Regions from separate parts of the Homo sapiens genome. Here regions 2 and 3 are each linked to region 1. The links come from fine-mapping of genetic effects on gene expression. A gene starts in region 1. Each other region holds a variant in brackets. All regions are shown on one strand. Distances are between the middles of the regions.

Region 1 (10,179 bases):
GGATTCCAAGTTATTACCTGTATCCGTGTCCATATATCATGCCATTTTGGGATAAGCACATTTGTGTAACAGAATTGTTGGCTGGCACGCTTTTCACAAACTTGGGATTCCTGAAGCATGACCACATTTACATCAGTTTCAGCTTTATGCAAAGAAAGGAAACAAGAATTAAACATAACAAGCTAATAACTATAACTCATTTCATGAAAAAGATTAAACTAACCATTTTCCTAAACTTTGGGTTAAAACATTAGCCAGACTGAGAAATAAGAAAAAAAACTGAGAAGAAGGAAGAACTAAGGCAGAATCTTATTTCTGTCGTTTAATTATTTAAATATTACACAGTCATTCAGTCAGAAAAGTAATAATAAAAACTACTATTAAGTATCTATTTTTTTTTTTTTTTGAGACAGTCTCGCTCTTTTGCCCAGGCCGGACTGCAGTGGGGCTATCTTGGTTCACTGCAAGCTCCGCCCCCTGGGTTCACGCCATTCTCCTGCCTCAGCCTGTAGCTGGGACTACAGGCGCCCGCCACCGTGCCCGGCTAATTTTTTTTTTTGTATTAAGTATCTATTAAGACAGTATGCTGCCAGGCGCGGTGGCTCATGCCTGTAATCCCAGCACTTTGGGAGGCTGAGGTGGGCGGATGACCTGAGGTCAGAAGTTTGAGATCAGCCTGACCAATATGGAGAAACCCCCCCGTCTCTACTAAAATACAAAAACATTAGCCAGGCGTGGTGGCACATGCCTGTAATCCCAGCTACTCGAGAGGCTGAGGCAGGAGAATCACTTGAACTTGGGAGGCGGAGGTTGAGGTGAGCCGAGATCACGCCATTGCACCCCAGCCTGGGCAAAAAGAGCAAAACTCTGTCTCAAAAAAATAAAAAATAAATACATAAATAAAAGAGACAGTATGCTGTCTCATTTAATGCTCCCAACAATGCTATGAGGTAAGCACTCTCATAATCCCTATTTTATAAATGAGGAACTGATGTTTAAGAAAGATTAAGTAATTTGCTCCAAAATCACACAAATAGTAAATAGCCTATCTGAGATTCACCCCCAGGTCTGACTATGGTCTTAAACACTAGATATACTTCCTGTCCTATAAAGGAATAAAGTAAGCTAAACTACTCCATCTGTTGATTTTCTCTATCCCTTTCCTGAGTAGAACAGAATTGGCAGGTTTTTTATTTTATTTTTTTATTTTTTTTTTGAGACAGGGTCTGGCTCTGCTGCTCAGGCTGGAGTACAGTAATGTGATCATAGCTCATTGCAGCCTCAAACTCTTGGGCTCAAACAATCCTCCCACTTCAGCCTCCCAAGTAGCCAGGACTACAGGTATACACCACCACACCCAGCTAGTTTTTTTTTTTTTTAAAGAGACAAGGTCTTACTATGTTGCCCAGGCTGGTCTTGAACTCCTGGCCTAAAGCAATCCTCCCACATTGGCCTCCCAAAGCACCCACGCTGACCTCCCAAAGCACTGGGATTACAGATCTGCCACCATGCCCAGCCAGCATTTTTTTTTTTTTTTTTCAGACAGGGTCTCACTCTGTCACCCAGGCTGGAATACAGTGGTGCGATCTTGGCTCACTGCAACCTCTGCCTCCCAGGTTCCAGCGATTCTCCCACCTCAGCCTCCTGAGTAGCTGGCATTACAGGCATGAGCCAACTCAATTGGCTAACTTTTTTTGTGTGTGTGTATTTTTGTAGTAGAGATGGGGTTTCACCATGTTGGCCAGACTGATCTAGAACTCCTGGCCTCAACTGATCCACCCACCTCAGCCTCCCAAAGTGCTGGGATTACAGGCGTAAGCCACCACGCCCAGCCAGCAATATTTTTAATATATAGTACTTTTGGAGGATACTAAAAGATTTCAAGGTTGTTTCCTTCCAGCTGTTTTGTGTCACTTCAAATTTTAACAGCAGGCAATGATTACATGCAGTCCCTCTGATTTACCAAAACAGAAGATTCTCCTCTCAATTTGTATTTAATATCAGCTAATTCAAGATTTAAAAGTGACCACTGTCCAGCCGGGCATGGTGGCTCACACCTGAAATCCCAGCACTTGGGGAGGCCAAGGCAGACGGATCACTTGAGGTCAGGAGTTCAAAACCAGCCTGGCCAACATGGTGAAACCCCGTCTCTACTACAAATACAAAAAAATCAGCTGGGCATGGTGGCGGGCACCTGTAATCGCAGCTTCTTGGGAGGCTGAGGCAGAAGAATCGCTTGAACCTGGGAGGGGAGACTGCAGTGAGCCGAGATCGCGCCTCTGCACTCCAGCCTGGGTGACAGAGCAAGACTACGTCTCAAAAAAATAAATAAGGGGCTGGGCGCCGTGGCTCACACCTGTAATCCCACCACTTTGGGAGGCCGAGGCAGGTGGATCACCAGGTCAGCAGATTGAAACCATCCTGGCTAACAAGGTGAAACCCCATCTCTACTAAAAGCACAAAAAAAATTAGCTGGGTACGGTGGCGGGCGCCTGTAGTCCCAGCTACTTGGGAGGCTGAGGCAGGAGAATGGCATGAACCCGGGAAGTGGAGCTTGCAGTGAGCCAAGATCACACCACTGCACTCCAGCCTGGGCGACAGAGCAAGACTCCATTTCAATATAAATAAATAAATAAATAAATAAATAAATAAATAAATAAATAGTTGGGAGCCAAGATCACACCACTGCACTCCGGCCTGGGCGACAGAGCAAGACTCCATCTCAATATCAATAAATAAATAAATAAATAAATAAATAAATAAATAGTTGGGCCCAGGCGTGGTGGCTCACGCCTGTAGTCCCAGGACTTTGGGAAGCCAAGGTGAGGGGATTGCCTGACCTCAGGAGTTTGAGACCAGCCTGGCCAACATGATGAAACCCCATCTCTACAAAAAAAAAAAGAAAAAAAAATAAGGCCAGGCACGGTGGCTCACACCTGTAATCCCAGCACTTTGGGAGGCTGAGGCGGGCAGATCATTTGAGGTCAGGAGTTTGAGACCAGCCTGGCCAACATGGCGAAATCCCACTCTACTAAAAATACAAAAAAATTACCCGGGCATGGTGGCACACACCTGTAATCCCAGCACTTTGGGAGGCTGAGGCGGGCAGATCACTTGAGGTCAGGAGTTTGAGACCAGCCTGGCCAACATGGCGAAATCCCACTCTACTAAAAATACAAAAAAATTACCCGGGCATGGTGGCACACACCTGTAATCCCAGCTACTCGGGAGGGTGAGGTAGGAGAATCGCTTGAACCTAGGTGGCCGAGATGGCACCACTGCACTCCAGCCTGGGCAACAGAGCAAGACTCCATCTCAAAAAAATAAATAAATAAATAAATAAAAATGTATACACAAAGATGTTCACAAACTTACAACAATGAAAAACTAGAAATACCACAAATATCCAACCAACAGTACAAACCACCAATATCCAACCAAATGTTTAATCCACAACATTAATAATGATTTTTACCAGGCAGATGGCACGTGCCTGTAGTCCCAGCTACTTGGGGAGACCGAGGTGGGAAGTTACAGTGAGCTATGATTGTGCACTGCACTCTAGCCTGGGTGTCACAGCAAAACCACGTCACTAAAAAATAATAAATGAAGGCCAGGCATGGTGGCTCACGCCTGTAATCCCAGTACTTTGGTAGGCTGAGGCGGGCGGAACACCTGAGGTCAGGAGTTCGAGACCAACCTAGCCAACATGGTGAAACCCCATCTCTACTAAAAATACAAAATTAGCTGAGTGTGGCTGGGCGTGGTGGCTCACGCCTGTAATCCCAGCACTTTGGGAGGCTGAGGTGGGCAGATCACGAGGTCAGGAGTTTGAGACCAGCCTGGCCAGCCTGGTGAAACCCCGTCTGTACAAAAAATACAAAAAGTTAGCCAGGCATGGTGGCATGCGCCTATAATCCCAGCTACTCGGGAGGCAGAGGGAGAAGTGCTTGAACTCTGGAGGCTGAGGTTGCAGTGAGCCTAGATAGTGCCATTGCACTCCAGCCTAGGCAACGAGGGCGAAACTCTGTCTCAAAAAAAAAAAAATTAGCCGAGTGTGGTGGCACATGCCTGTAGTCCCAGCTACTTGGGAGGCTGAGATGGGAGAATGGCTTGAAACAGGAACCGAGATTGCACCACTGCACTCCAGCCTGGGCCAGACAGCAAGACTACATTCTGCGGGGCGGGGCGGGCGGGGGGTGGAGAAAAAAAATTAAATGAACATCTGCACATACATTGGAATGTAATACAAGTAAGACAACATTTACAAAGAATTTTAAGGCCGGGTGTGGAGGCTCATGCCTGTAATCCCAGCACTTTGGGAGGCCGAGGCGGGCGGATCACGAGGTCAGGAGATCAAGACCATCCTGGCTAACACGGTGAAACCCCCTCTCTACTAAAAATACAAAAAATTAGCCGGGCGTGGTGGTGGGCGCCTGTAGTCCCAGCTACTCGGGAGGCTGAGGCAGGAGAATGGCGTGAACCTGGGAGGCGGAGCTTGCAGTGAGCCGAGATCTGGCCACTGCACTCCAGCCTGCGCGAAAGAGGGAGACTCTGTTTAAAAAAAAAAAAAAAAAATTAGCCGGGCGTGGTGGCGGGCAAGTGTAATCCCAGCTACTCAGGAGGCTGAGGCAGGAGAATCATTTAAACCCAGGAGGCGGAGGTTGCAGTGAGCTGAGATTGCACCACTGCACTCCAGCCTGGGCAACAAGAGCAAAACTCCATCTCAAACAAACAAACAAACAAAAAAACAAAAAAAGAATTTTAAATTACTTGGGAAAATTATTGTACTACAAAATCAAACGAGAAAACTATCTCTGGTAACGACTGGCAGCCTCCAGGGAAGAGAACTAGAGTACTAACTGGATACAAATTATCAATTCATAAAAAATTAAAAATATGTGGAAAAAGATCAGAAGAAAGTGTGCTAAAATAGATTGCTTCTGAATGGATTAACAGTGTGGTTTCTGCCTGCTTCTTTATACTTAATTGTACCTTGCCAAATCATCTAAAATAAACATGCATTATTTGGCCGGTCACGGTGGCTCACACCTGTAATCCCAGCACTTTGGGAGGGCCAAGGCGGATGGATCACGAGGTCAGGAGTTCGAGACCACCCTGGCCAACATAGTGAAACCCCATTTCTACTAAAAATACAAAAATTAGCCGGGCGCGGTGGCGGGTGCCTGTAATCCCAGCTACTCCGGAGGCTGAAGCAGGAGAATTGCTTGAACCCAGGAGGCGGAGGTTGCAGTGAGCGAGATCGCACCACTGCACTCCAGCCTGAGTGACAGAGCTAGACTCCATCTCGCGGGCCGGGGGCGGTAAGGAATCAAGGTTTTACAAGAGCAGAAGATAGTAGAGATCACTGCATTTCTGTCAACTACATCCGTTCTGCCACCCGTGCCCTGCGTCCTGACAGAGCATACGCTCAGATGGTGTTTGCTGATTTGCCGAATGAATGAGATGGTCCCTTTCCCGCGGCTGCTCTGCCTGCCCAGAATGGTCCCCAGGTTTTCTCGCTTTTAACCAAGAAACTCAAGGCTTCTGCAACGAGACACAGCCCCCAGGACTGCTTCTCAACCAGTCTAGGCCTCCCTTCCTGTCTCCGCCAAAAGGCTTCAGGCTCCTCCCCACTCTGGAAGCTGCCCCAGCCCGCTTCAGGGCCCAGACCCTCAGTCCCGACGCCCACTAGCCTGCCAAGTTTCTTCCACCACACTACGCCGGCGGCCCTCGGTAGAGCCACCGCCCTTCTGCAGAGTAACGGCCCGCGCCCTCGGGACAATCCCTTTTCCAAAAATAACCCCCTCGGCACCTGCCCCCTTGGCAGCTGCTGCCCGGGCGGTACCTGTGCCGTAGACCAAGCAGCCGGAGAGGATCAAGAGTAGCCGCACTGTCCCACCGCCCCCGACTCCCGAGCCCCAGGGCCCGGGACCAACTGCCGGCGAGACCGCCACTTTCATTCCTCCCGCCATGGTTGCCTCAAGCCACCTCCTCCTCACGTGCCTTACCCCAGCAACTAACTCCGAACGGGCAACGACAGCAGCCTATCCTCTACGAAACCCGCCCCTATCAACCAATGGGATGGGCAGGGCTTCGAGCACCCAGCCCTCCAAGGGCCCTATGAGTCCCGCCCCTTAGCAACTGAAGAGAGAGGGCGGGAAAAGCAGCTTTCAGCCTATTGGAAAATGGGTTCTCACCCTAGCAGTGGCGACAGGAAGATCCCACCCCGCTAACAACATGCTTCCGTCTTCAGTTTATTTACAACTGGTGTGATTGATGGTAAGTTTAACCAATAGAAAATCGGAATGGGAGAGGCCTCCTTGACCAAACTCGGTATTTCCATAGAAGCTGTCTGAAGTTCCTTCCGTTTTCTTTCGGTTACTTTTTATCACGACCTTTCTGTTATGAGACGCCTACAATTGAGATCGCTTTATGAGTAGGACCCTGATAGGACGATTTTTAAAGTCGACTGACAAAAGTGTGGTTCTCCAAAGTCCTAAAGGATTTAAAATAGAAGTCACAAAAAAGTGTGTGTCAATATTTTATAAGCATAAACATTAGCTTTTAAAAATGTATTCATAGGATTTTTATTTTTGGAAGTAAAATTAATGTTAGGATTAAGAAAGATTCATTTATTCCTCTTATCATCTTGTGAGACAAATATAATTCTCTCCATTTAAGAAGCCAAAGCCAAGACAGCCACAGGAACCTGCCCAAGATTTCATAGTTCATCTGGTCTGTGATCCCAACCTAAATCCTACTGACTCCAAAGCCGGAGTTATTTATATGGATTAGCTGCTTCCCATTCAATGATTTAACACAGGGCCCAGCAGAGATCCAGGTGTTCAGAAACTGTTAGTAGAAATTGAAACTTTTTTTTTAAGAGGATCTGATGGTGATGGGTAGGAAAACTACAGATGATAGAGCCAAATGAATTGAGGAATTCAAGGAAGGGGGCATCTCCTGGGGAAGGTTCAAGCTTTCAAAACAAGAATTTTTTTTTTTAATGTTTTTAGAGACAGGGTCATTCTCTGACACCCAAGCTGGAGTGCAACAGCACCATCACAGCTCAGTGTAACCTTGAATTCCTGGACTTAAACCATCTTCCCACCTCAGCTTCCTAGATAGGTTGGGCTACAGGGATGCACCACCATGCCCAGCTATTTGTTTGTTTCATTGTTGTTGTTGTTGTTGTTGTTGTTATTGAGACAAGGTCTCCTTCTGTAACCCTTCTGGAATGCAGTGGTGTAACCACAGCTCACTGCAGCCTCGAACTCCCAGGATCAAATGATCCTCCCACTTCAATCTCCCAAGTAGCTGGGACTACAGGCATGAGCCACTATGTCTGGCTTAATTTTTTTTAATTACTTTTTGTAGAGACAATATCTTGCTATGTTGCCCAGGCTGACCTCAAACTCCTGGCCTCAAGTGATTATCCCACCTTGGCCTCCCAAATTACTGAAATTACAGGAGTAAGCTACTGCACCTGGTCTAAAACAAGGACCTTTTTAAAAGTCAAAATGGGCCGGGCATGGTGGCTCAGGTCTGTAATCCTAACACTTTGGGAGTCCGAGGCGGGTGGATCAACTGAGGTCAGGAGTTCGAGACCAGCCTGGCCAACATGGCAAAACCCCGTCTCTACTAAAAATACAAAAATTAGCCAGGCATGGTGGTAGGTGGCTGTAAGCCCAGCTACTCAGGAGGCTGAGGCAGGAGAATCCCTTGAACCCAGGAGGCGGAGGCTGCAGTGAGCCAAGATCGCCCCATTGCACTCCAGACTGGGTGACAGAGCAAGACTCTGTCTCAAAAGAGAAAAAAAAAAAAAGTCAAAATGGGCTGGGCATGGTGGCTCATGCCTGTAATCCCAGCACTTTTGGGAGGTTGAGGTGGGAGGATCACTTGAGGCCAGAAGTTCGAGACCAGCCTGGCCAACACAGCAAAACCCTATCTCTAATAAAAATACAAAAATTAGCCCAGCATGGTGGCAGGTTCCTGTAATCCCAGCTACTTAGGAGTCTGAGACAGAAGAATTGCTTGAGCCCAGGAGGCAGAGGTTGCAGTGAGCCGAGATCATGCCACTTCACTCCAGCCTGGGTGACAGAGCGAGCCTCTCTTGTCTCAAAAAAAAAAAAAAAAAGTCAAAATGGGGCTGAGCTATGGGCAAGAGAAGAGATTTCATTCTCAGAAGGAAAAGTCTAGGCCAACAGTGCTGATATGGTCATCCTGTATTTCACACACACACTCCCTCAGCTGACCTAGGGAAGTCAGCATCAATCATGTTGATACTATGTACCCTTGATAACATGAGATGAAAATGGCATTTTAACTCTGTGGTTTTCCTTCCCAAAACCCATAACACCACTCTAATCTTGAGAAAAACATTAGACAAATTCCAATAGAGGCATCCTACAAAATACCTGACCAGTACTCCTCAAAGCTGTCAAAGTCATCCAAACATCATTATGGGCTTTTTTGTTTTTGTTTTTTGAGACAGAGTTTCACTCTTGTTGAGCAGGCTGGAGTGCAATGGCACAAACTTGGCTCACCGCAACCTCCCCCTCCCAGGTTCAAGCGATTCTCCTGCCTCAGCCTCCCAAGTAGCTGGGATTACAGGTGTGTGCCACCCCGCCCAGCTAATTTCATATTTTTAGTAGAGATGGGGTTTCTCCATGTTGGTCAAGCTGGTCTTGAACTCCCGACCTCAGGTGATTTGCCCGCCTCGGCCTCCCGAAGTGCTGGGATTACAGGCATGAGCCACCATGCCCAGCCCATTATGTTTTTGAGAACTAAACATAATGTGGTGGTCTAGATGGGATCCTGGAACAGAAAAACACATTAGTTTAAAAAAACGAGGCTGGGCACGGTGGCTCATGCCTGTAATCCCAGCACTTTGGGAGGCTGAGGCGGGCGGATCATGAGGTCAGGAGATGGAGACCATCCTGGCTAACATGGTGAAACCCCGTCTCTACTAAAAATAAAAAAAATTAGTCGGGCGTGGTGGCAGGTACCTGTAGTCCCAGCTACTCAGGAGGCTGAGGCAGGAGAGTGGTGTGAACCTGGGAGGCGGAACTTGCAGTGAGCTGAGATCGCTCCACTGCACTCCAGCCTGGGCGACAGAGCAAGACTCCGTCTCAAAAAATAAGAAAACAAAAAAAAACACGGAGGCTGAGCATGGTGGCTCACGCCTGTAATCCCAGCACTTTGGGAGGCCAAGGCGGGCGAATCACGAGATCAGGAGTTCAAGACCAGCCTGGCCACCATAGTGAAACCCCGTCTCTACTAAAAATACAAAAATTAGCTGGGCGTATGGCGGGCACCTGTAAACCCAGCTACTCAGGAGGCTGAGGCAGGAGAATCACTTGAACCTGGGAGGCGGAGGTTGCAGCAGTGAGCCAAGATCAGTGCCACTGCACTCCAGCCCGGTGACAGAGTAAGACTCAGTCTAAACAACAACAACAACAACAAAAACTCAAAGGAAATCTGAATAAACTGTAGACTTTAGTTAATAATAATGTTTCAATACTGTTTCATTAATGGTGCTAAATGTACCATACTAATGTCAGATAATAATTGAGGAAATTGAATGTAGGGTATATAGGAATTCACCATATTATCTTTTCAATTTTTCTGTACATGTAATGTTTCTAAAAATAAAGTTGGCTAGCCTCAGTGGTTCACACCTGTGATCCCAGCACTTTAGGAGACCGGGTCTGAGGATGGCTTGAGCCCAGGAATTCAAGACCAGCCTGGGCAACATAGTAGGACTCTGTCTTTACAAAAATACAAAAATTAGCCAAGTGTGTTGGCACGTGCCTGTAGTCCCAGCTGCTCAGGAGGCTGAGATGGGACGATCACTTGAGTCTGGGAGGTTGAGCCTGCAGTGAGCCATGATCATGCCTCTGCACTCCACCCTGGGTGACAGAGTAAGACCTTGTTGCTAAAAAAATGAATAAATTGGGCAGGTGCAGTGGCTCATGCCTGTAATCCCAATGTCTTGGGAGGCCGAGGCAGGTGGATCACTTGAGCCTAGGAGTTTGAGACCAGCCTGGGCAACATAGTGAAACCCCGTCTCTACAAAGAATACAAAAAAAAAAAAAATTAGCCAGGTGTGGTGGCATGCACCTGTGGTCCCAGCTACTTGGGAGGTTGACGTGGGAGAATCACCTGAGCCTGGGA
Region 2 (10,179 bases), 89 kb before region 1:
CAAGGATGGGGAGGCTTCAGAGTTTCAAGGTTTGCACCCATTTCAAGGTATTGGGGGGTGAGGGGTGGTCCTTCCCATCTCTGCTCCTAGTGCCTGGCACCCAGCATGCAGTAAAGCCAATGCTGTGAAGTGCATGGACAGAACTTGAGAAAACAGAATGAGGGTCCAACAAATATCTCTCCAGGGGAGAGAGACAGAGACAGGAAATAGGAAGACAGGAATGGGCTAAGACAGAGAAACCAAGGGGAAAGGACAGAAGAGAAAAAGAAAAAGGAAAGAATAAGAAAAACACATGAGTAATTACTTTCTGCATCCTGTTTAGGAGAGATACACTTAAATCCTAAGACTAGGGGAAGTTAGAGAGCAGGCCTGCACTGGGCATCAGGGGACAAGCTGTGCTACAACCTGCATCAATGTCAAGGCAATATCTGTCCTGGAAGAAAAGGTCACCTTGTGTACCTGGGAATCCCAAAGCTCACTGTGGACTGAATGGCCAGAGCAGGAGGGGAGGAGGGAAAGAGGTCTCATGCCACACAGGTGTCCAGACTGCACTCTCTGCCCCAGGAAGTACCACCTTTTCCTCCCACCATCTCATAAGGCCACCTCTGCCCTATCCCCATAGGGTCCAGCAAGCTTTGGGGAAGACTCTACAGAAGACATAGGGGAGCAAACTAATAGCATGAAAGATCTGGAGTAGTCAGAGCTACAGAACTACGGACTCCAGGCCAGCAGGGGCAGGGGTGTGAGTGGGTGAGGGCTGGGGGGTACAGGAGACGGAGACTGACCCTAGGAATATTGGAAAAACAATAAGGCCTGCAATGGTGGCCCTTCCCCTACTCAGAAACCTTTCCTGGACTTGAAGGAATGAGGATTCTTTGATTCAATAGTTGTACTTTTCTTGAATAGCACTGCTAAGCCTGTCAACAAACCTTGGTAGAGAATCGCTACTGAGATGTTATTTATGCCAGGAAAAGTGGGTAACAAACTTCGGCATTCAACAATATAGAATCCCTTTAACAAATTATGGCCTCTCCACATGCTGGAATATGGAGACCTTGATTGTTATGTTGGGGAAGAAACTTGATGATGAAAATGCTGACCCCAGAATGTGTAAAGTAGAGGGAAATTAACCCTGGAGGCTGGGATTAGGGGGAATGTTGTTTCACTCTCATCCTCTTCTATGATTTCTCCAATGAGAAATCCTATCTTATCCTCCTATCTATCCAATCTTATCCTCTTCTATAATTTCTTCATGTTTTCCATTTACAATCAGAACAAAGCAATCAATGATCTCCCTTTCCCCAAAAGGAACAGGATTCATCACTCGGTGTTTGATGTGAAGTCCCTTCAGCTCTCCAAGCCCCAGTGTCCTCGTGAATCAAGCGGAGATCATCTTAAAGCCCTCAACAGGGACAAGTGTGAAGGAACCAGTAAGAGAATGCTGAGATCAGAAGCCTGGATCCTGCCCAGCCCCATCCCCGATGGTCTCATGCCAACCGTCAGGACCCAACGTTATCCAGAGACTGGGCTCTAACCACAGCCTGGACTCCTCTAACCCTGGGCCCAGCCACAACCACTCTAGGACTTCTGCTTTGGAAAACAGAAAGCTCAAGCCCCCGAAAATAAAAGTCCTGGAAATGTTCCCAGTTAGCAGACACTAGGTCTCCCCTAGTGACACAGAGAGAAGAGAAACAAACAGGCACTAGGAGGGATTGAGGTGGTCCCTCTGTCCCCCACACACTCCTTCACCCACTGGGCAGCTGCAGCAATGCTCTCTGTCTTGGTGATGTCCATGGTCACCGTCTCCAGCCTGTCTGAAGTCTGGCCCCTCAGCTGCTTGGTCCCCTTCTCTGTCCTACATGCAGCTCCCGCAAGCCTGTGCATTCAGTTGTCTGGCCAGTAGCTTCCTGAAGCGTGAGTCACAGCTCATGATGAACACGTACTTGTCTCTCAGGTGACTCACCACCTGCCTCTCCCAGTACCAGTGCAGAAGGTAGTATAGGCCCAGGAGGACCGCCAGGTAGAGCCACATGGCTTTGCAGAGGACAGACCCAGACGGGCTGGGGTGAAGTGAGAGTCTGGCCTCTGTTCAGACAGGAGGACTTAAGAACACAGAGGGCTGAGGTAGGCAGGGAAGCCCTCAGGCATTTTGGCAGAAAGTCCTCACTTTCCTCTCTGATCACTGTCTTTCTGCACCATTTTTTATCCTGGCTTCATCTCTCTGCTCTTTCAACTGCCTTTGCAGGTGTTCATGCATGCAACTGCAAACCCCAAGCTCTGCCCAGTGAGTAGTTATCACTACTCAGCAATGCTTCCCTAGTCCACCAATGCCTCTCTGCCTTGCTGTGCCTACTCAGGTGTCCACACAGGGGCCCACACACACACACCATGAAACACACCACTCTGATCTACAAACAAGGGTCAGAACTTGTCTCTACATATCTTGTGATATGGTTTGGATATTTGTGCCACCAAAATTGCATGTTGAAATGCGTTCCCCAATATTGGAGGCAGGAGCTGGTGGGAGGTGTTGGGTCATGGTAGTGGATCCCTCATGGCTTGGTGCTGTCCTGGAGACACTGGAATGAGTTGTGATGGGATCTGGTTGTTTAAAAGTGTGGCACCTCCCCAGCTCTCTCTTTCTTGCTCCCACTTGCCATGTGACAAATCAGCTCCCCCTTTGACTTCTGCAGTGATTATAAGCTTCCTGATGCCTCACCAGGAGCCAAGCAGATGCATGCTTGTACAGCCTGCAGAACCATGAGCCAATTAAACCTGTTTTCTTTATAAATTACCCAGTCTCAGGTATTTATTATAGCAACACAAGAACGGCCTAACACACATTGTATACCAACACTCCTGGACCATGGTCTCCCAGAAAACAGACTTTACTGGGAAGCTACACATGGTTTCCAGGCACATTCAGTGGAAATCCTGCTCTGAGCCTGAGTTTCCTCATCCCACCCAGCATCCAGAATCAATCACTCCCCAGAAAAGTAGGGCACGATCAGGCTCTCTAGGATGAGAAGGAGAAGGCAAAAAAGTGAACAAGAGCAAGTCCCCTCCTGCTACAGTAGTTTTCTGGGGCAGAAAGATGTGGAACACCCACAGGGAGAGTCCAACCTCACAGGTAAAGAAAGGGGAAAGAAGGGAATGGAGCCTTGGAACCCACAGGAAGGAAGTACCCAGGGCTGCTGGGAAGGGGAATGGAATGACTTATGCAGGTGTCACAGGGCTCACCTGCTCACCTCCTGATATGCCCTGGGTGCTGGCTCCACTGCCCTCTGCCCTCCCCTGTCAGGGCCCACATCCAGGATCTGGACCCCTCAGACACTGAGAGGCTAAAAACATTGCTCATTTGAACAAGGACAATGAGGATGGTGGTCCAAAACCTTGCCCAAGCAGGGAAGGATATGAACCCTAGTAACTGTAAAGGTATTACTTCAGTTTGTATCAGGGTGTTGATGGACAGGAGGGATCTCCTTCTCAGGAGACTACAGAAAGGGGTACAGACTGGACCTCTGCTGTCCATGGAGGGTCCCTCGGTGTGAGGTCGAGGAAACTATTTCATAACTGGTGGGCAGGATGTAGAGGGGCAGGGAGCTGGGGGAGTAGGTGTGGGACAGAATAATCCAGGGTTTATTTGCACTGGGCCTCTCTCCCACTGTCCATGTTTGCCCAATTTCTGTCCCCTAATTGAAGGAAGAAGTGGAGATGGACTGGGAGGGGGAAGGAGAGGTTTCCTGCAGAAACCAGAGGCTAGCAAAGAGCCGCGCGCCCCCTGGTGGTTCTTCTCTAGCCCTGCAGTCACGACGTGGGCATCGGCCTGGGATCAGCCAAGGCTCTTCAGCTCATCCCAATGGCCACTCTCTCCAGCATCGGGGAGCCCCCATATCTCCCTGCACGGATCCTCCAAGAAGGAGGGAAACAGCAAGACTGCTGGCTGGTAAGAGACTGGACTACTGTTAATTAAGCAACATGGATGGTGCCTTGAGTGTGCTGCATACTAGAGGTTTGACAGACTCGGAGCCCCTTGAGGGCTCCGAGACTGAGTCCAGTCATTTTTGTATTTCCAGCCCCGGCAGTGCTAGCTTCTAGCAGAGATGAAGGAATGTTGAGGTAGCTGACACTGCAACATCTGGCTTCGCTTTCCATTTTCATCACTATTTCTTACATCATGCGACAATATGAGATTTCCTAAAGCCTCCATTTTTCTCATCTTTATAACGAGGGAGGAGAATCAAGATGACTTTGTCAAGTCCTCCCATCTCCAATTTCAGGGAGTCTAAGAATCCATATGCCTTTATTAAAATGGTGAAAACTTAGAAAGATGGGGTCTTGGGAAGCACTGGAGAATTTCTGACCAGCATACATTAGGTGCTCAACAAAAGTTAACAGAAACGGAAGAAATCTGGAACCAACAAGAGACTTACCACATCTACAGAGAGGCTGGGGGAGGGGTGCAGATCAGGAGATGGGAGAGTGAGGGAGAAACAGAAGCTGGGAGAGATAGGAGACCAAAGGAAGGGGGAAGGGTGGCGGCATGCGGGGAGGCTGCTAGTGCTGTAGGCGGCAGAGGGATATTAATAGTACCTGGGGCCCTTCCAGTCTCTTATCAGTCTTTTCAAGCTTCCTCTTCCTTAGACTGATGTCACACCCTCCCTTCTCACACTTGGGAAATCACAGAGGAAACAGTTGTCCTTCATCTAGTGAAAGATAGGGAATGGGAAGCAAAGACATTCACTTTCCCCTTTTCAAATCCCTCCGAGATCATCCTACAAATCCCTCAGCCTTCATGAAGGAGACACCTCCTTCCTCATGCAAGAAATTTCCTAGAATTCCCAGGGCTGAGTCAGCTCCACACAAGTGGATACCCAACATTGCTGTTTTTATCCTGACCCCAGTCTAGCAGAAGCTCTCCAAGGGTCATTTTTTTTTAAAGCTTTTGGACATCATGGGCCCCTTCGAGAATCTAAGGAAGGTTATAAGCCCCCCACATAACACAACAATCAAAAACTTGCTTATACTTTTCATACAGTTCACACCTAAAACCATTAGCTGCATGGAATCCAGCTCAAGAATCCTTGTAATATGGGCTTATTGACCTACTAGCTGTGTGACTGGGGCAAGTTATTTAAAGTTTCTGTGCTTCAGTTTCCTTGTCGATGGTAGTACCCACTCCATGAAGTTGTTATGAGGATTAAATGAGGTGATATGGATAAAGCCCCTTACAACTGTGTCTAGCCAATGGTGCGTATTCAATAAACATCAGCTGTTACTATTACTACATTTCTCTGTGGTAATTCATAGTGACATTTGGGAATGTTCCCACCCTTCTATGTAAAAAACACAACCCAAGACAGCCAAATAAAAGAGGAGGCTCATGTTGATCTAATTCAGAGAGGAAAAAAATGGCTGGTGGTAATAGGACTAGAGAGGTCTCTCAGTGTCAATTCCACAAGATGGGATTCCTTTTTCCTTATCCCCATGAAGTGGAAAAGGAGCATGCTTGTATATATTATCTCATGTATCCCATATAATAACCTGTAAGGGAAGCATCATTATCCTCACTTTACATATTAAGAAACTGACATTAAACTCCTATCTCTCACCAGACACAAAAATCAACTCAAGATGGATTAAAGACTTACATATAAGACCCAAAACTATTATTAAATTATTAGAAGAAAATCTAGTATTGCAGGAAAAATCTACTATCTAGTATAAGGAAAAGTCTCCTGGACATTGGACTAGGCAAAGAATTTATGACTAAGATCTCAGAAGCACAGGCAACAAAAACAAAAATAAACAACTGGGACTTAACTAAACTAAAAAGCTCTGCACAACAAAAGAAATAAGCAACAGAATGAACAACCCGCAGAACTGGAGAAAATATTTGTAAACTATTCATCTGACAGGGGAGATATCCAAAATATACAAAGAACTCGAGCAAGAAAAAAAAAAACCCCACAAATAATCCCACTAAAATGTGGGCAAATGACATGAATAGACATTTTTCAAAAGAAGACATTTTTCAAAAGACATTTTTCAAATGGCCAACAGATATATGAAAAAATGCTCAACATCACTAATCATCAGAGGAATGCAAATAAAAACCATGACGCGATATCATCGTACCCCAGTCAGAATGGCTATTATTAAAAAGATAAAAAAAAAAACAGATGTTGGCAAGAATGTGGAGCACAGAGAACTCTTAGACATTGCTGGTGGGAATGTGAACTAGTACAACTTCTATGGAAAACAGTATGCAGATTTTTCAAAAAACTAAAAGTAGAACTGCCATTCGACCCAGCAATCCCACTACTGGGTATTTACTCAAAGGGGAAGAAATCAGTACATTAAAAAGACACCTGCACTAGTATGTTTATCACAGCCCTATTCACAATAGCAAA[G/A]ACATGGAATCAACCTAAGTGTCCATCAACGAATAAAAGGATAAAGAAAATGTGGTATATATACACAATGGAATACTATTTGGCCATAAAAAGGAATGAAATTATGTCTTTTGCAGCAATGTGGATGGAACTGGAGATCATTATTTTAAGTAAAACAATCGAGGCACAGAAAATCAAATATTGCATGTTCTCACTCATAATGTGAGTGCTAAAAGATGTGTACACATGGATGTGGAGAGTGAAATGGTAAACAGTGAAAACTTGGAAGGAAGAGGGAATGGGAGAGGAGTGGATGATGAGAAATTAGTCAATGGGTACAATGCATGTTATGCTTGTGGTGGATACCCTAAAAGCCCTGGCTTGACCAACATGCAACCTATTCATGTAACAAAACTGCACATGTACCACATCAATCTGTACAAATAAATATTTAAAAACAAAAAACAAAAGAAAAGAAACTGAGATTCAGAAAGGTTAAGTGACCTGCCCAAGATCACACAGCTACCAAGTGGTGGAAAAAAGTGTCAAAAACAGGTCTGACTCAAAAACTGGTGTTATCTCCACAGTGTCTCGTGAAGGGCCGGTGAAGAGGGAAGAACTGAGCAGAGAGAGCCAAGGACAGGGTAGTGGGGCACAGGCTTTGAGGAGCCTGGAAAGCTCCTAATCTGGTACTTCTGGGCAAACCAGATTCCTCTCTAGCTTGGGGAAGCTGGTGGCAGGAGGGCAGAACAACCTCCACGACTAGACTTGGCTTCCTGACTCAGTGGCCTTCTGGAAGTTCACACTGTGGACGCGAGTGCAATTACTGCCAAATCCCTCAGCCTTAACCTGTCCACAAAGCACCTGCCTCCACCCCATAAGCCAGGCACGTGGGTTGATCCCTGGGACAGCCTGCCTCACCCCTTCTGCCAGGGTCCAAGCACAGCCCTTTGCCTAACCTGACCCTGGAAAGTCGTCTGCCTTTATCTCTGCCTCCCAATACCTCCTCCCTGGTACCTTCCTTCCTTTCTGATTGTTGATCGCAAAATCTTGTCTACACTTTTTTGGGGAAAAAAAGTGGGGCGGGGAGGAAAAAGAGTAAATTTCCAGGAATTGTTTCACTGCTGCTGTTTCTGCTGCATAGGGCAAAGCTGCTGGCCTGCTCCTTTTGCCCAGGTTGGCGAGGAGCCTGGCCTCCTGCTCCTCCCTCTTTCTCTTCCTCCCAGTCTCTCTCTTTCCAGCTGCACCCCACCCCCTAAAAAGCCCCACATGAAAACTGCAGAGCTATCACTTATTTCTTCCTGAGGGAGGAGCTTTCCCTCTGAGCCTCTGCCAGAAGGAACCACCATCACTTCCTCTTTCTACAAATACACATTGGGTGACAGGAATAGGTGGGAGAAGGCAGCAGGTAGAGGTGAGGCTGCAGGGGGGATGTCTCCATATGGGAAGGACAATTCAGAGACCCAGGAGACAGGAGCCACTAAAGGGCAGTCTTGTGAGGAACGGAAGTGGTCACAGATGTGGCCATCTGGAGAGGACAAAGACCAGACCAGGGCCTTCCTTGGAGGGTGCTTGATCTAGGACAGGCTTCATTTGCATGGGTCAAAAGCATGTAGTGGGAAGGGGAAATTCTCAGAAGGCTCCTTACTGAAGAAAAATATCAATGGGATAGAAACTAAGACCCTAAAGGGAGAGAATAAGAGCAAAACTAACTGAAAAATCGAAGTAAGCCACATTTCACACTGTCATGGTTCATCATGATGGTTTTTTGTTTTTGTTTTGTTTTGTTTTTTTGAGACAGAGTCTCACTCCACGGCCCAGGCTGGAGTGCAGTGGCGTGATCTCAGCTCACTGCAACCTCCGCCTCCTGGGTTCAAGAGATTCTCCTGCCTAAGCCTACTGTGTAGCTGGGATTACAGGCATGCACCACCACGCCTGGAATTTTTGCATTTTTAGTAGAGACAAGGTTTTACCATGTTGGCCAGGCTGGTCTCGAATTCCTGACCTCAGGTGATACACCTGTCTCAGCCTCCCAAAGTGCCAAGATTACAAGCATGAGCCACCTAGCCTAGCCCATTATTTTTTTTTTTTTTTTTTTTTTTTAGGAGATGGGATCTAGCTCTCTAGATCCCATCACCCAGGCTTCAGTGCAGCAGGGTGATCATGGCTCACTGCAGCCTTGAATTCCTAGTCTCAAGCGATCCTCCCACCTCGGCCTCCCAAATACAGACTGTACCACCACAACTGGCTATTTTATTTTTTGTAGAGATGGGGGTCTCATCTTGTTGCCCAGGCTGGTCTCAAACTCCTGGGCTCAAGCAGTCTTCCCACTTCGGCCTCCCAAAATGCTGGGATTACTGGTGTGAGCTACTGCACCGGCCATGATAGATTTTGTGATCTTGGAGTGATCTGATATGTAAGTGGAAGGTTTAAGAAAACTACAAAACTACAAAATGAAAAATATTCCCTTCCATGGAGATAAATGGTGCTGATGGTTGCACAGCAGTGTAAATGCACTTAGCGCCACTGAATTGTACACTTAAAAATGGTTAACGTGGTAAACCTTACATATATTTTACCATAATAAAAGAATCAGTGAGCAAACTTTTAAAAAATGTTCTCTTTGAGTGGATAAAGAAAATGTGGTGTGTGTGTGTGTATATATATATATATATATATGGGAATATTACTCAGCCATGAAAGGAAATGAAGTACGGATGCATGCTCCAAAGTGAATGAACCTTGAAAACATGCTAAGTGGAAAAAAAAAAACACAGACACTGAATGTCACATATGATATGGTTCCCTTTCTATTAAGTATCCAGAATAGGTAAATCCACAGGGACAGGAAGCAGAAGGTTGGTGGTGGGGGGAATAGGATTGACTGCTTAATGGTTATGGGGTTTTCTTTGCGGGTAATGAAGATGTTTAGCACGTAGACAGAGGTGGTGTTTGCACAATGTGCATGTCTAAATGCCATTAAATCACACATTTTAAAATGGTTAATTTTATGCTATGGGAATTTCACCTCGACTTAATATATACTCAATCCCGTCCAGCCGACACACCTTTGGCTCAGGCCTAGGCCACTCTGCCATCTGCCAAGTGTGGCTTGTGTAACAGACAACTTCTCTGGGCCTCAAAGAGGGTGAAGAAATCCATCCTCCCCACAGGGGTATCTCCAGAATCCAACGAGATGAAGTGAGGTGAAAGCGCTCTGAAGGGCAGGAAGCTCTGCTGACACAAAATGTTTACCCATAACACGTGGCTTAGAGTCCCTTACCCTCTAGCTTGGCGGGAGAGAGAAGTCTGCTCTCCCTACCCCACGCCCCATCCCCTGCTCATCCCCTGCCAGCCACCCACCACACCCTTCACGCAGAGAAGTATAGAGCCACAGGGGGAGGGCGCCATTCTCTCTCTCCCTCCCTACTCAGGAATCTCCCTGAAGCTTTGACAAAGCCCCCTTGACACCCCGCATTCAATCTTATTTTTATTTTTTTTTATTAACTCTGTCACCTAGGCTGGAGTGCAGTGACCTGATCTCAGCTCACTGCAACCTCCGCCTCCTGGGCTCAAGCGATTCTCCTGCCTCAGCCTCTCAAAATGCTGGAATTACAGGCGTGAGCCACCATGCCCAGCCATTCAATCTTTTCTTTCCCAGATTCTCACCTCCAATCACAAGATGAAGGCAGGGAGCTCACAGCCCTGTGAGGGGCTGGGGAGAATGGCAGGGGTGGGCCAGAGTTATTAAAAGCCCAACTGATGTTCAGATTTATTTTGACCCTCC
Region 3 (10,179 bases), 39 kb after region 1:
TCCTCTCCCGTCCTCCCTCTTCAGTGTAAGCAGTGGCTGCCCCAGCCCGCTGTTTCCGGCTTCTCCTTCTACCCAGGTCCCTCCCTGGAGCTCTGACGACACAGAGAAGAGAAAGTGGGCTGGAGGAGGAAGAGGAAGAAAGTGGGGTGAATATGTGTGCCTCCTGTGCCGAGTGGGGGAACACGTGGGGGATCAGGACTGGGGTCCAGGCCTTGGAGCCAGGCTTGGGGGGAGGCTGACCCCCACTTACTCTGTCCCCCTCAAAAGCATCAGCTTTTCTCCAGAAAGTCACCCAATATCAAACAGAGATTTGCCACCCCTAACTGCCTGGCTCCCAAACTCAAACTCTGCCAAGGGCTGGGGTTTGGACCCACAAGGGACTGGGCTCCCCAGGGCCTCAGGAAAAGTAAATCCCTCTGGACTCTGCGCTCCCTCCAGTGGAGGACCCTAAAAAGCCGCCAGGGAGCTCGATGCCAGCCAACTCCTAGGTCCCCCTCCCTTCCGGCAGGGAACGCCTTAGAGGTCGGTCTCGTGACCACTGACGGGAGGGAGTGGGGGAGGGGAACCCTCAGCTCAGAATTCTGGAAGACTCTAGGAGTCCCTTGGACTGAAGCTGGTCTTTGCTCTCTCCTCACAGGGCACCCCTCCTGAGACTGTGGTGGGAACCAGCACAAGCCGGAGCTGCTGCCTGCAGATTCACAAGGGGCAAGTTTGAATACGAATCTGCTGTGTTCCTATCTGCCAAGTTCCTATATGTTTCTGGGGTAAACACTGAGACACGCCAAGAAACAAACACACACATGCACAACTTCCCTGACCACAAGACTACACACACACACACACACACACACACACACACGTGCAGGCAGGCTCACAAACAGAGCCCATTGCAATCACAACACCACACACACACACACACACACACACACACACACACACACACAGTCTTGCTCAACTTCTGAGTCATCAACATAACTAGTGGAGGGTTCTGCAGTTTTTGCTGGGGGAGGAGCTGGAGGAGACCAAGGGATCCAGAGAGGCCTTTACTCCCGGACACCTGAGAGCCCCGGTGTGTGGAAGAGGTGGTGTCTGAGGGGCGGTGGGAGGAAGTTTCTACTCCCCTCCTCCCTCCCATAGCAGGGGCTGGGCTGAGGGGCCAAAGCTAGGCCTATGCTGCCCCCTGGTGCCTGAATTGATTTCCAGAACCAGCTCCTCCTCCTCCATCCCTTGCTACCCCGCAGGTCTGTACATGAGTGCACGTGTGTGGACCCAGCCAGGCAGCAGAGGGTTTGAACACAGCAAAATATAGCAGTTAAAAGACTGGACTGTGGATACAGGCTGCTTGGGTTCAAATCCTGCTAATGCTGCTAACCACACAACCCTGAGCAATTTACTCTGTGATTCATTCTCGTCATCTGTAAAATGGAGCAAATAAGTCTTAACCCATAATGTGAGAATAAAATGCAGTAAAACATCTGAAGGCTTAGAACAATGCCTGACACACAGTAACTGTCAGGCACTATTTTTATGGTTCATAATAAACCAGGTATGAGGAAAGGAGAAGGGTCTCCATCCTACATAGAAGTCCCCAGATTTGGGGGTCATGTTACTGCCAAAAGGATATTGAGGGTGTATGTGCGTATGTGTTTGCTGTGTCTGCAGGACAGTGAATGGAAGAGAAGGGAGAGCAGGGGTGGAGGTGGCAGGCAGGGACTCTGTCCATTGGCTTGTCCAACAAGCCATGCTAGGATCAAGGTGTGTGCACATACGTGTTCACGGCACACGTGCTTTGTATGTGCTCCCGAGTGCCCACTCTGCCTGCAGACATCCACAGACAGTAGGTGAAGCCAGGTTTCACCATCTAAGGGTGTCAGAGCTACAAGTCCCCAAAGACTTGGAGAGGAGGAGGGAAAAGAGTAAATGTGATCTCTGACTTTGGCTCCTTTTAGGGGGTAGGAAGGCGAGGAGCAAGTACTGGTAGAAAAATAGTATATATTACTCCCTCTGTAACTGACTATACCAATGGGAACACTGTGATGTAAGGGGAAAAAACAGAATTTAGAGGCAAATCTGGCTTGGGTATGACTCCATTTAGGAGGTTCACAATCAGGTGTCAATCCCTCAAATGAGAATAATAGTTATACCTACTTCAACAGAGTCTAGGCTAGGGTAAAGTGCCTAGAGTATGAAATTTAAGGAGATACTCATCTTCAGATTGTACAATTGCAGGGTCTGTCAGACCTTCATTAATGACATCTGCACCTGCATGACTGTGAGGGTGACTGTATCACCCTCCCCTGGACCTTGACATCCCATTGAGTGGTGGTAAAGATTGCACAAGAGAGGCTCACGCCTGTAATCCCAGCACTTTGGGAGGCTGAGGCAGGCAGATCACAAGGTCAGGAGATTGAGACCATCCTGGCCAACATGGTGAAACCCCGTCTCTACTAAAAATACAAAAAATTAGTCGGGCGTGGTGGTGCGCGCCTGTAGTCCCAGCTACTCAGGAGGCTGAGGCAGGGAAATCACTTGAATCTGGAAGGCAGAGATTATAGTGAGCCGAGATCAAGCCACTGCACTCCAGCCTGGTGACAGAACAAGACTCCGTCACACACACACACACACACACACACACACACACACACACACACACGATTGCACAAGATAAAGCGTAAGGAAAAAATAACTTTATGTCTATGTACTGCTGGTTACAACCCAATAGTGAGTCACAAAATCGATTTGGTGAGTGTATCAGTTTGCTAGGGCTGCTGTAACAAAGTACTACATATTGCATGACTTAAACAACAGAAATCTCTCAAGATGCTGGAGGCTAGAAGTCCAAGATCAAGGTTAACCTGAGCAGGATTGATTGATTCCTTCTCAGGGATGTGAAGGAAGGCTCTATTCCAGGCCTCCCTCCTTGGCCATTTTCACGTTCACACACTGTTCTCTTTGTATGCAAGTCAGTCTCCAAGTTTCCCCTTTTTTCAAGGATACCAGTCATATTGCATTAGGCCCCATCCTAATGGCCTCATTTTAACTTAATTACCTCTGTAAAGACCCTATAAGGGGGTCCTTCAAAATAAGGTCACGTCCTGAAGTACTTGAGATTAGGACTTCAAGAGAATTTTTGAGGAACACAACTCAGCCCATAACAGCATCTTGATCAAGCACAATGGCTCACACCTGTAATCCCAATACTCTGGGAGGCTGAGGCAGGAGGATTGCTGGAGGCCAGGAGTTCGAGACCAGCCTGGGCAACATAGCAAGATCCCATCTCTACAAAAAAAATTTAAAACAAAATTAAAAACAAAACATAAAAAAAAACAGTGTCTTGACCTTCACTCTTTGAAACTGAAGTAAAGGCCAGGCGCAGAGGCTCATGCCTGTAATCCTAGCACTTTGGGAGGCCGAGGTGTGCGGATCATCTGAGGTTAGGAGTTCAAGACCAGCCTGGCCAACATGGTGAAGCCCCGTCTCTACTAAAAAATACAAAAAATTATCTGGGCACAGTGGCATGTGCCTGCAATCCCAGCTACCTGGGAAGCTGAAGCAGGAAAATCACTGGAATCCGGGAGGCAGAGGCTGCAGTGAGCTGAGATTACACCCCTGCACTCCAGCCTGGGCAACAGAGTGAGACTCCATCTCAAAAAATAAAAAATAAAGTGAATAAAATTAAAAAATAAAACTGAAGTAGAATAGAACAGTACAGAAAATATCAGAAGGCATCAAGCGAAGTAAGGATAAGTATTGTTTAATTAAACTTTTGTTTCAGCTTTATATATGTATCTGAATTCTTTTTTTTTTTTTTTTATTTGAGATGGAGTCTCCCTCTGTCGCCCAGGCTGGAGTACAGTGGCGGGATCTCGGCTCACTGCAACTTCTGCCTCCTGGGTTCAAGCAATTCTCCTGTCTCAGCTTCCCCAGTAGCTGGGACTACAGGCACATGCCATGACACCCAGCTAATTTTTGTATTTTTAGTAGAGACACCATATTGGTCAGGCTGCTCTCAAACTCTTGGCCTCAGGTGATCCACCCACCTCAGCCTCCCAAAGTGCTGGGATTACAGCCATGAGCCACCACTCCCGGCCCTATATGTATCTGAATTCTAAGTCATGATAAAACATACTTTTTAGTGCTGGTTGTGGGGAAAAAAAAAAAAAGCACAGCCATGCATGGTGGCTCACGCCTGTAATCCCAGCACTTTGGGAGGCCAAGGTGGGCAGATCACCTGAGGTAAGGAGTTCGAGATCAGCTTGGCCAACATGGTGAAACCCCGTCTCTAAAAATACAAAAATTAGCCAGGTGTGGTGGCACTGCCCTGTAGTCCCAGCTACTTGGGAGGCTGAGGCACGAGAATTGCTTAAACCCAGGAGGTGGAGGTTACAGTGAGCCAGGATCACACCACTGCACTCCAGCAACAGAGTGAGGGTTTGTCTCAAAAATAATAATAATAATAATAATAACAGAAGCACAATTTGGGTACTGGTGGCCACTACATATTCCTTTGTATTGCTTTTTAATTATTTTGTGGGTACATCTTTCTTCCTCAACAATAACACAAGTTCAAGGAGGGCAAGGACTCATATCATACTGTACACACTGCTGTGCAGCAGCTAGAAAAAACAACATGCATTCTTGGTGGTAAAGATATGAAGGGCTGCAATTAACTGAGTGTCTCCCATGTACTTGGTGCTGGGCTAAATGTTTTATACATACTCTCCTACGTAAGGACTAAACTGATTGATGGATTGATTGCTGGAGCTCAGTACATTTCACAGACAAGACAGTTCAAGAACACTGAATAGTGGACTGTGATTTGTGGAGGATGAGGGAAAGGAGGAGGAGGTCACAAAAGAATTGTGGGAAGCTGCTGAGGGCCCCTAGCCAGCTCTATCTCCCAGGCCTTCACTATTCTCCTCAAGTTTCCATCCATCTTCATACCAACTCATCATTTAATTAGAAAACACCTGTGCTCAAGGCCCCTCCCTTCTGCCTCTTCAGGCACTTGTTCAATTTATTATCCCCTTCATTCTTCAAATCTCCACCCTCCTGCTCTGTAGTTATGACAGCTCTATACTTTCAGCATAAAGCATGTTCGAATCCTTCTCTCTCTCCTCTCTCTCTCTCTCCTCTCTCTCTCTCTCTCATAGAACAGGGTCTCAATATGTTGTCCAGGCTCTCAAACTCCTGAACTCAAGTGATCTTCCTGCCTCGA[C/T]CTCCCAAAGTTTCGGGATTACAGGCGTGAGCCACCGTGCCCAGCCTGAAATGAATCTTGAAGGGACATAAGAATTATTCAGGCAAAGAACAAGGAAAGCATTAAAGCAGGAAGAAGGTCTAGCATATGCAAAGGCATGGATACCTGTGGGAGCATGGTACCTTCTGGGAATGGGTAGTAATGGGCAATGCGGAGCATTAGAAGATTTAGACAGGTGAGTCATATGATAAGATTTAGTAGAGGGATCAGCCTAGCTGCAATGTGGAGGATGGATTTAAAAGATAAGTTCTGAAGCCAGGAGATCCATTCAGAAGGTTAATAACAACAGAGAGGGAGACGACACAGTTGAAGAGCAGAGGTGAAGCATTGTGGAATGGAGACTGGTTAGGAAGAAAAGTGAAGACATGAGGGGCCAGTGTCAAAGGAAAGAAAGGCAAGAAACTGGAAGTCTCAACAGACTTAAAGACCAGGCTTCCCGGGGGCAAGGGAAAGAAGAGCTGTAAGGCTAGGATGTTGCGGTCAGAATCTAGGGAGTGAGATTTCAGTCCAGCTCTCCTGCAAGGGTGTGATAAAGGTGGTGGCTATGAGAGTGAGTGGCTACAGCAACACAGAGGTAAGTCATTGGAGTCAAAGAGAACAAGGAACCAAGAGGCCAGGGTGTTGGCTGGACTACCTGCCGGAGCACTGAAACCATCTGGGTTTGTGGAAAACTTGAGGTGGACAGGAAGACAGTCAGCTGCTAAAGTCTTCACAGAAGGCCAGGCGTGGTGGCTCATGCCTGTAATCCCAGCACTCTGGGAGGCTGAGGTGGGCAGACTGCTTGAGGCCAGGAGTTTGAGACCAGCCTGGGCAACATGGTGAAATGCCGTCTCTCGAAAAAATACAAAAATTAGCCTGGTGTGGTGGTGCATGCCTATAGTTCCAGCCACTGGGGAGGCTGAGGTGGGAGGATCCCTGAGCCCAGGATGTCAAGGCTGCAGTGAGCCATAATTGCACCACTGCACTCCAGCCTGGGCAACAGAGTGAGAGCCTGTCTCAAAAAAATTAAAATAAAATAAAATAAACAAAGACTTCACGGATAAAGTGACCAGGACATCAGTGGATAACAGCAAAAATAATAACTAACACTTAGTGGGGCTTTATGTGTTACTTCAATTCTTACTCTAAAATTGAAGCACTGTACTTTTTATCCTACAATAATACTATGAGCTAGAACTATGTGCCCACTACAGTAGCTACTAACCACTTGTGGCTATTTCAATTTTAAAATTCAATGCCTCTGATGTATCAGCCACATTTCAAATGTGCAATAGCCATGTATGACTTGTGGCTACTATATTAAAACAGACACGGGGCATTTCCATCATCACAGAAAATTCTATTGGATAGTGCTGATAACCCTCATTTTACAAATGAGGAAACTGGCATGGAAAACTCAGCAACTTGCTCAAGGCTAAGGTGAGAGAGCTGGGATTCAAATCCAGTTAGTTTGGCACCAGAAATGTTGCCCTTAAGCCCTATGTTGCACATCCCAATGGAAGGTGAAATAGTTGGCTCTTAAAGGAAGAGGAATTTGATGTGACTACTGAGGCAAGCACTGGTGGTGCCTATTCAGCAGCCAAGCTTTTCTCCCTTGCTAGCAAAGTCTGGATTTCACACAGGTGTCCCCCTCCTATGTATTCACGGGGTGAATCTAATTGGCATAGCCAATCACAGTATTTCTATTCCCTTGGCCAGTGACCCAATCCTGGCCAATAGGACTTAGGGGGCTTCTGGGAAAGATTTTGTTCTTCTTCAGTGCCATGTTCACTTTTAGGATTGGAATAGCTGCAACCACGTTGCAACTGGGAGGGGAGATACCACCAACCAATGAGGATAAAGTATGAGTGTGAAGAGGTGGAAAACCTTTGATGAATCAACCAGCCCTGGACCTGCTATAAAACTCCTCATTGTTGAGCCTGCTTTAATTGGGTCTTCCATTACTTGCTGCTAAATGCATCCCTAACTAAGACCATGGTGAAGCTATATCGCCACAGGAAATGGAGACTCCAGGGTGGGCTGCCTGCCCATCCTCCCACTACCACCCGCCCTATACACTTGAGAGAATAAGCGATACCTCATTAAAGGAGGAATGTTCTCAAGGAAGGATCAGGTTCCAGACAAGCCAAGAGGGGCCAGGATAATGTGAGCCAGGGGTGGCCCCAGGCTTCAAGCAAGGAGATGGGTGGAGAGCAGTATAACAGTGTTAGGAGGAGGAAGGACTGGACTTAGTGGAGAAGGATGGATGCCAATCAAGGCCTGCCAAGGATGACAGGATGTGAGCAATGGTGGAGTCAGCTGATCTCAAGGCTTCAAATGGAGCCCTCAGGCTGTCAGAGGCTTACTGTGGCCAACCGACCTTTACTTCACAGAAGGACAAGTTAGCCATCCTGGTGAATGGGCAAAGTCAAGCAGCTCTGGATGGAGTCAGCTGTGGTCAGGATTGTGCCTCTGCAAGGAAATCTCAGTTCTCTAATTACTGTCTTGCCTCTCTCCCTTCCCCTGTGCAGCCAAGCATCTTGGGAAAATTATTCATATTCAGTCTTCTCTTCCTTACTTCCTCATTACACTGCCAGCTGGCTGCTGCCCCCACCAGTCATGAAACTGTCCTGGCCCATGTCACATACACCCTCCTAGGGGCCTTGAATGATGGCACATTCCTGTCTTTCTCTTGCTGGGCCTTTCAGCAGTACTCAACACTGTTAGCCATTCTTGAGTAAGTTCTCCCCCAACTACTTTTCATGATTCCTTTCTTGGTCTTCGGCCTACCTCTCTGCGTCCTCCCTCTCAGTCTCCTGTCTTCACGGGACACTCTTTCTGTGTGATCTCATCCACATCTGAGGCTCCACAGCCTGGGCAAGGCTATGTAGTATGGTGATTAAAACCTTGGCCGCTGGCAGACCACCTGTGTTCAAATCTCTGCCCTACCAGGTGGTTGCTTTGTAATACCCAAACTTCTATCAAGATGTGGATCATTACCCTCACCCCAACCCACAGGGGAAGCCACTGTTCTGATTTTTTTTTTTAAGTAGAGTAATATAGGATGTAGTTTTATGTCTGGCTTATTTTACGCAACATGTTTTGAGGTTCATCCATGTTGCTGCATGTATCCATAGTTCTTTCATTTTTCTTGCTGAGTAGTGTCCCATGGTGGATCTATACCACAGTTTGTTTATCCTTTTTCAAATGAAGGATACCTGAGCTATAGCCAGCTTTTGGCTACTGTGAAGAAAACTGCTATGAATATTCTGTGTTCAAGTCTGTGTGTGAACATATGCTTTCATTTCTCTTGGATAAATAACTAGGAATAGAATTGCTGAGTCACAGGGTAGGTGTATGTGTAGTTTTATAAGAAACTGCTACATATTGTTCCAAATTGATAGTACATTTTACATTCCCACTAATGATGTATGAGAGTTCCAGTTGCTCTGTATTCCCACTAACATTTGGTATTGTCAGTTTTTTAAAGTTTAATCATTTTGGTGAGTATTGAGAGGTATCACACTATGGATATAATTTCCTTTTTTTTTTTTTTTTTTTTGAGACGGAGTCTTGCTCTGTCACCCAGGCTGGAGTGCAGTGGCACGATCTCGGCTCACCGCAAGCTCCACCTCCTGGGTTCATGCCATTCTTCTGCCTCAGCCTCCCGAGTAGCTGGGACCACAGGCGCCCGCCACCACGCCCAGCTAATTTTTTGTATTTTTAGTAGAGACAGGGTTTCACCATGTTAGCCAGGATGGTCTAGATCTCTTGACCTTGTGATCCTCCTGCCTCGTCCTCCCAAAGTGCTGGGATTACAGGCGTGAGCCACCGTGCCTGGCATAATTTGCATTTTCTTAATAACTAAAGATGTTGAGTTCTTTTCTTTTTCTTTTTTCTTTTTATTTTTGAGACAGGGTCTCACTCTGTTGCCCAGGCTGGAGCACAGTGGCACAATCACTGCTCACTGCAGCCTCAACCTTCTAGGCTCAAGCAATCCTCCTGCCTCAGCCTTTTGAGTAGCTAGGACTGCAGGAATGCACCTCCATATCTAGATCATTTTTAAATTTTATTTATTTATTTATTTTGAGATGGAGTCTTGCTCTTGTTGCCCAGGCTGGAGTGCAATGGCACAATCTCAGCTCACTGCAACCTCTGCCTCCTGGGTTCAAGTGATTCTCCTGCCTCAACCTCCCAAGTAGCTGGGATTACAGGTGCCCACCACCATGCTCAGCTAATTTTTGTATTTTTAGTAGAGACAGGGTATGGCCACATTGGCCAGGCTGGTCTTGAACTCCTGACCTCGTGATCCGCCCGCCTCGGCCTTCCAAGGTGCTGGGATTACAGGCGTGAGTCACCACGCCCGGACTTTTTGTAGAGATGAGGTCTCGATATATTGCCTAGGCTGGTCTGAAACTGCTGACCTCAAGCGATCCTCCCACCTTGGCCTCCCAAAGTGCTGGGATTACAGGCGTGCACCACTGCACCTAGCCTCGAGTACCTTTCATATGCTTATTGTCCATTCATTGGGTTGTCATTTTATTACTATGTTATAGGAATTTTTAATATATCTCGCATTCCTCTGTCCCTTCTCAGATCAATGTTTTGTCTATCTATTTGGCTTACTTCCACATTTTCATAATAATGTCTTTTTTTTTTGAGTCAGGGTCTCACTGTCACTCAGGCTGGAGTGCAGTGGCACAATCAACTCACTGCAGCCTCTAACTCCTGGGCTCAAGCAATCCTCTCTTCTCAGCCTCTGGAGTAGCTGGGACTACAGGTGCACACCATCACACTCGGCTAATTTTTTAAATTTTTTGTAGTGACAGAGTCTAGCTTTGTTGGCCAGGCTGGTCTCAAACTCCTGGCCTCAAGCAGTTCTTCTATGTCAGCCTCCCAAAGTGCTGGGATTACTCCATAATGATGTCTTCTGACGAGCAAAA

The links.
Region 2: its variant is fine-mapped to the expression of NEMP1 in ovary (GTEx, PIP above 0.99). The same link has a PIP of 0.9 or more in CD4 T cells and hippocampus.
Region 3: its variant is fine-mapped to the expression of NEMP1 in blood mononuclear cells (TOPMed, PIP above 0.99).

What each region holds. Positions count from the first base shown.
Region 1 is chr12:57,072,771-57,082,949 of GRCh38, forward strand. It overlaps NEMP1 (nuclear envelope integral membrane protein 1), which reads right to left and starts at 6,021. Exons shown (of 9, transcript NM_001130963.2): 1 at 5,849-6,021; 2 at 18-142. The coding sequence starts at 5,975. RefSeq lists enhancers at 5,576-5,825, 5,946-5,995.
Region 2 is chr12:56,983,929-56,994,107 of GRCh38, forward strand. It overlaps LOC124902945 (a long non-coding RNA gene), which reads right to left. Exons shown (of 4, transcript XR_007063333.1): 2 at 9,461-9,626. It also overlaps the pseudogene LOC390332. Among named protein-coding and RNA genes, the nearest start is that of ACKR5, 5.5 kb to the right of the region's middle. RefSeq lists a cis regulatory region at 7,226-8,040. The variant G/A (reference allele first, on the strand shown) is at 6,414.
Region 3 is chr12:57,111,320-57,121,498 of GRCh38, forward strand. It overlaps STAT6 (signal transducer and activator of transcription 6), which reads right to left and starts at 43. Exons shown (of 22, transcript NM_003153.5): 1 at 1-43. It overlaps LOC124902946 (a long non-coding RNA gene), which reads left to right. Exons shown (of 2, transcript XR_007063334.1): 1 at 1-522; 2 at 638-1,560. RefSeq lists enhancers at 1-116, 117-1,062, 7,630-7,819 and a silencer at 1,102-1,261. The variant C/T (reference allele first, on the strand shown) is at 5,219.